Linked DNA regions of Homo sapiens: region 2 is linked to region 1. Evidence: fine-mapped expression QTL. A gene starts in region 1. The other region holds a variant in brackets. All regions are shown on one strand. Distances are between the middles of the regions.

Evidence for each region. PIP is the estimated chance that this variant, and not a neighbour inherited with it, causes the effect.
Region 2: its variant is fine-mapped to the expression of LINC02767 in sun-exposed skin (GTEx, PIP above 0.99). The same link has a PIP of 0.9 or more in esophagus muscle, unexposed skin and visceral fat.

The regions. Positions count from the first base shown.
Region 1 is chr1:207,957,745-207,960,645 of GRCh38, reverse strand. LINC02767 (long intergenic non-protein coding RNA 2767) reads right to left here and starts at 1,655. Exons shown (of 3, transcript NR_167983.1): 1 at 1,571-1,655; 2 at 407-531. RefSeq lists enhancers at 1,183-1,682, 1,683-2,184.
Region 2 is chr1:207,961,699-207,964,599 of GRCh38, reverse strand. All of the region lies in intron 2 of LINC02767 (long intergenic non-protein coding RNA 2767), which reads right to left. Among named protein-coding and RNA genes, the nearest start is that of LINC02767, 4.2 kb to the right of the region's middle. RefSeq lists enhancers at 1-429, 1,116-1,175, 1,236-1,335. The variant T/C (reference allele first, on the strand shown) is at 1,709.

The DNA of each region.
Region 1 (2,901 bases):
CTGGGCCCCAGGGTTCTCGAGTTACTGTACAGACCTTCTTGGTCTTCTTCCCACTCTGAGCACAGGAGAAAATCCTCTTGTGCAACTGGTAGTGGAGGAGAAATGCCACAACAGTGACACCACCTTGTCTCTCAAGGACATTGAGCAGTGTGGGGTAGAAATGAGGATGGGAAGGGTCCAGGTGGGGGTGGTGTGCAAGGCTGACCCAGGGGTCCCCAGTCCCAGACCCTACCTCTTGCACTCTGACCCGCCTAGGGAAGCGTGGCTGAGGAGGTAGGGAGAAAGAAAGGTCATGCTTTCAGCCTGGACTTCAGGACGTGGCCTGAGGACAGGTCAGAAGAGAATGGTATCCGTCACCATCTTACAGTTTTAAAATTCTTTGTATGGCGTCAATGTTCTCACTTACCGAGAAAGTACAGTCTCTGGAGTTAGAGACAGGTTCAAGTCATAGGTCTCCACTTACCAGTGGTGTAACCCTGGCAAGTCACTTTCCTTGGGTGAGATCCCATTTCTCCATCAGCAGAATATGGCCTGTAAAATCGTTGGAAAGATAAAAATAACATACGTAAAGTACATGGAAAATAATAAGCACTCAAATGGTAGCTATAGTTATTTATAACCAAGAAAACAGGGGGAGTGGATTTCTCCAGGTTGGACAGCTGATAATTGGTGGAACCAAAATTCCAAACTACTCCCCAGAAGCTTCAGTTCCTTATCCCAAGGCCCCTCTGCTCCCCGGAAACTAAGTCTCATACTTCTGTAGCCAGGTGCGACCCTCCAAGGCAAATCTCTGCCCACCGACTCACAGAGAGGGAACCCCCACCAAGAACCCGCTGGAAGCCTGGCGCCACACAGCTGCACTATCTGGAACCTCGCGCGACTGCAGCCCTGGGGGGCGCGCCCGGAACCGAAATGGCTCAAGAGACTTGAGGACCGGCGCGTCTCCTTTCTCCGGCCCCAGTCCCCAACTCCCGCCACAGCGCAGAGGGGGCAGTGCGGTGGGAGGGGGGGAGTTGTGGGGCTGGGGCTCCGGCCTGGCCGGTGAAGCCCCAGGACCCGTCCGCTTGGGGTTAAGGCAAGGGGTGCGGCACGAGGAGCGCAGGGAGCCCCGAGTCCCAGGCGCAGACCCAGCTGCGGACCCGCCGTACAGCCCTGGTGTTGCAAGCGTGGACCGTGGGCGTAAGGCCCCGGCGGGAGGCACTCGGCCCGGCCGCGGCCGGGTCTGCAGGGTCCTGGCGCAGCGGATCCCGGCGCGCCCTGGCCCGCGGCCCGCAGGGTTCAGACGGGGCCGAGACAGCCAAGCCCGGTTCGCTCGCGCCAGGCGCTGGAGCCAAGGCTGACGGGCGGTTCTGAATCATGTTTGGAGGAGCGGCGCGGCCCCCAGGGCTCCGCTGAGACGCGCTGCAGGGCTGTCCGGGCCCTCCCTCGGCGACGCGGCCAGCAGCCCGCGCCGCGTCCTCAGCGGCGGCAAAAACTAGGAGTCCCGGGGCTCTGCCGGGCGCCGGCACTGGAGGGCAAGAGATGCTGGCTTCCCCCGGGGCTCATCACCCCGGGGTTCCACAGCACTTACGTGGGATGGGGACCCCGGAGTAGACCACGGACGGAAAGGAACGGTGGTTTCATTCTCTGCAAAAGAAATCCTCGCGCGCACACGGGTGCCCCGGGCCAGGCAGACCTCCAGCAGAGGCGCCCAGGTGGGGCGTGCAGAGCTTCTGAAAGTGGGCACCTACTTTAGGAGGCTGGCAAGCACAGAGAGCCCAGAATCACCTGTGCCGAGCCCTCAAGGGGGCCTTCTCACAGCCCTGATGTGCCCCCTTACTGCGATTAAGGCTGTTTGCGAGTCCTAAAGAGCTTGCGTTATGCAGGGCACTTTCAACCAACCATTCCTCTATGTACAGCAACCTGTGAAGCTGGCAGGACCAGTACCTTTATTCGTTTTACAAGTGAGAAAGCAAAGGGGTGGGAAAGCCCTAGGGTTCTGTGCCCGACTGCCTAGTCAGGCCCTGCCAACCAAAGATTGAAGTCCGTTCTTTCTCTCTCCTGCCAGGAGGCGAAGAAGTGTCCACCCTGTCTATTGAGAGGCCTCTACTTTAAGAATTAAGCCAGGCAGTCGCTGCTGTGTGGAGGGGTGTTGACAGCAAGTGACAAGGAAGCAAGTCTTTATCGCAGGAAAAATTACTTAAGTGGACTCCTTAGCAGCCTCCTTTCCATTTGGAATGAAGATTAGCACCCCTAGCCCTAGAGCTGTGATTCTCAAAGTGTGGTGCCCAGACTAGCAGCAGAAGCATCACCTGGGAACTAGTAAGAAATGCATCTTAACTGCCCCCTCCTAGGCCTCCTGGATCAGAAGCTTTGAGGTAGTGCCAGCCCAGCAATTTATTTTTTTTGCTTTTCATACATATATATATCTCCACAATGGATGAAAGAGAACAATCATCAAGGATGTAGGTACCAGACACAGGGCAGAAGGTAGCTAGAAAAGTATGCCTGAAGGAAGTTAAGGACCCTAGCCTCATTCCTACCTCGTTTCAATAGGTGGACCTAGCATAAATAGGTTACTTTTCCATTGTTCTAGCTTCCTCTGCCCCATCTACAAACATGGCACAGCTGGCTTGCCTTGCAAGGCCTCAGCTGAAGGACCCCATGTACACACAGGCCAGTACAGCAGTATTAGGATCTAGAAGAATCTCATCCCCATATATGGTCTCACTCCAAGTCTATGGCCGAGTACCTTCATTGTTGTGTGCAAGATGGTGTCATCCCTTGAAAATATGGCCGCTTCAGCATAAAATAGTTAAATCTTTATAATGGTCGATTATCTCATCCTACCCCCTTTTACATGCAGCTGAAAAACGGCAGGCTAGGGACATAGAACATTGTGGACTTTATACTGTTAGAATC
Region 2 (2,901 bases), 4.0 kb before region 1:
TCAGCAAGGGCAGAGTGATGTTTTTCATGACTAATCTTCAAACCCCGGACGAGAGGAAACACATTCCAAAGCGACTGCTTGAGACAAGAACAGGGTGGGACGCAAAAAGTTAACTGAGAATCAGGAGATAGGAGAAGACTCAGCCACACCCAGCCAGTGAAGATGAATTTAAAGAGAACTCTATGTAGTGCGGCTCCCTGGGTGGAACAGAACATATGATTCTCGTGCCAGAGTGTGGGTTCACCCCTCTCGCCTAAACCTTCCGTTGTGAGGTGTGCCCTTCAGACAGTTATGCTTGGGTGGGCCCCGAGCAACCCCGCCACCCTCCACTCTCACCGCCCCCGCACGCTTGCAGAAAGCCAGCCTTTCTGGAATGGTGACTCGTCGGGGTGTACGATGTCTTCGTGGGGTGGGCAGAAGGGATGGTATTCCCTGTTTGCAGCCCCTGGGGTGGCAGGCGTATGTTGGGCCTAGCTGGCTCCTATTTCTGAGTCTTGACACCTCCCCCGCTGCCTGCCTCCTCCTCCTCCTCCCTCTCCCCTGGGCCGCCGAGCTGTTTGGCCCGCGGTGCCCCGCTCAAAGTCAGGGCCAAGGCCAGGGGAGGGGGCAGGCGGTGGTTCCCAGCACTGCCCTCACCTGATATTTACTTTCCAGGCTGTTGACTCCCAAACAATACAGTGCACGCCGATTTGCAGGGTACCTTCCGTCTACTTTCCCAGTAAACCACTCCCACCAAGCAAACACGCAGGGTTCCCCTGGCCCGCGCGGACCTGGAAAAACACAGCGCTTGGCTGGTCTCCCTGGCTGGCCGGACCCGCCGCCTTCCGGCCAGCGCACCTCCGCTGCGTGGAAGCGGCCGTGCCATGGCGCCTTGCGGCCACGAGAGGGCAGCCGCGGGCCGCAGAAACACCACCGCGCCCGGCTTCCCGAGCCTGCGCCTGCGCAGACCCGAGGCCGACCCGAGGCGGTCGCTGGCCAAGCGCCCGGCCAGCGCTTCCGGCTGCCGAGGCTGCAGCCTTCAGTGAGCTGTGGCTCTGCCGCCCCGGGAGGGAACAAATGGCGGATTTCAGGCCTCCGGGCCATGCAGCCTCCCTCTGAGGCCCCAAAGGCGCGATAGAGGCGGTGAGATGCGGCTGGAGCTGGGAACGAATTCCCCGGCCGGCTGGGAGGCCGCCCAGCCCGGTGCGCTGACCGCACTCGCCTTGCTTTCACCCCTCGGGTCGCCTCTCGCACCTCGCAGCCGAAAGCCCCTCCGCTGGGTCACGTTTCTCCATCCCGCTGCAGCCTGAGCAAGGTCGCCTTCATCCTTTACAGACAGAAGTTCCTCTACCCGGAGGCCCGGAGCCTGGGAGAGGGCCACTGGGAACGTCGCATTTGCAGAGCCCCAGTAACCGGGCTGTGGACCGTCTTCTTACTGCTTGAAGTTTCAGGCTCAGAGCAGGAAACGATTCCAGAGCTCAGCCAGGCACCGATGAGAAGAAAAACAGAAGCAGCACATTGCCCAGGGCCATGGAGCTTGCCAGTGAAGAGCAAACCAGGCCACGTAGGGCCGCTGCTTGGGACCCTGTCCTGGCACCCCCAGCTCTTGGAGAAAGTCAGCGCTCCCAAGGCCTCCAGGCCCGCCAGCATCGTCTGGCCCTGACTGCTCTCCACCATACCCCACTCTCCACTGCAGCTCTTCCCCATGTCCCGGCTGTGCACATCCGGC[T/C]CCATGATCCCAGCCGCGCCCAGCTTCACTCTCTGCCCAGCAAACTCTTGCTTGTCTTCTAGGTGTTGGCTTAGAAAACATTCTCCCTGCAAAGTTTTCTAGGCGTTCCCCGCACCTCTCACACAACCCTATGCAACACTGTATTCCAGGGTAGCCCACACAGAACCTCACCTGCTTGTTCACTTATCTGACCCAGAATACGAAAGGCCCACACTAGGTCTTAATTAATATGTCCCCTACATCCCAGCTGCCCCATCCAAGTCCCCAATTTCTGGGCCCATGTACTTTTTACCGTGTTGCCCACTGGCCCTTTCACTATTGTAACTAAAATAAGCAGATTTATGGCCTAGAAGACTCTATGCTTCTACGTCAGAACAAGAGCCTGCTCTTTTCTAATTCCTGGGAGAATATTATGACAATTCTTGCTTCTGAAGCCTGGAGAATAATTTCCAACATGACAGTCTCCCTACTTCTGTGGTCCGGAGGGTACTTTCTAACTTGAGTTATTCTCATTATTCCACTCAAGAGAAGTAACTGCAAAACAGGTGTTAAACCATGCAGTAGGATTTACAGAGGTTGAGGGACTCCATGAGTCCACTTGAACCAGAGCAGCACGATTTTTATTTTTTAGGTAGGAATTTCTTTTGGGGGGAAAATAAGGAGCCAAGAATTCTATTAATGCTTTAAAAATGTTTTAAGTGGGAGGAGGGTGAAGGGACAAGCAACTCTACTTTCTGCTCAATATTGCTGTGAACTAAAATTTTTCTAAAAAATACAGTTGATTGATTTATTTAAAAAATGTTTTAGATGTCACTACACTAAAGGATTATAAAGTAGAGCAGCTGAAGAGCTGTGGACAATTGTTAACAACTAATCATTTCCAAAGGCTGTACCTACATTCCCAGTGAAGCACATATCATAACTTCTCAACCTAGGGAGCCTTTCCCTTCCCTTTTATGTGGAGTCTATTTATTGTCACCCATTGTTTCTTCTTCCCTGACACCAGGGAGTCTGATTTTTTATGGGTGTAGTTAGGAACTGAAAGTTTGTTTCTTTGTTTTTTTTGGTTTTTTTTTTCAGAATTTGTTACATTTATAGAAAAAGTTGCTATGTTACTTATTTGAAGAAGAGTTGAAGCTTTTATATTTCTCTTTTAAAAATGTTTTGTTTGAGGCCCTAGGGTTTTTGTTTTT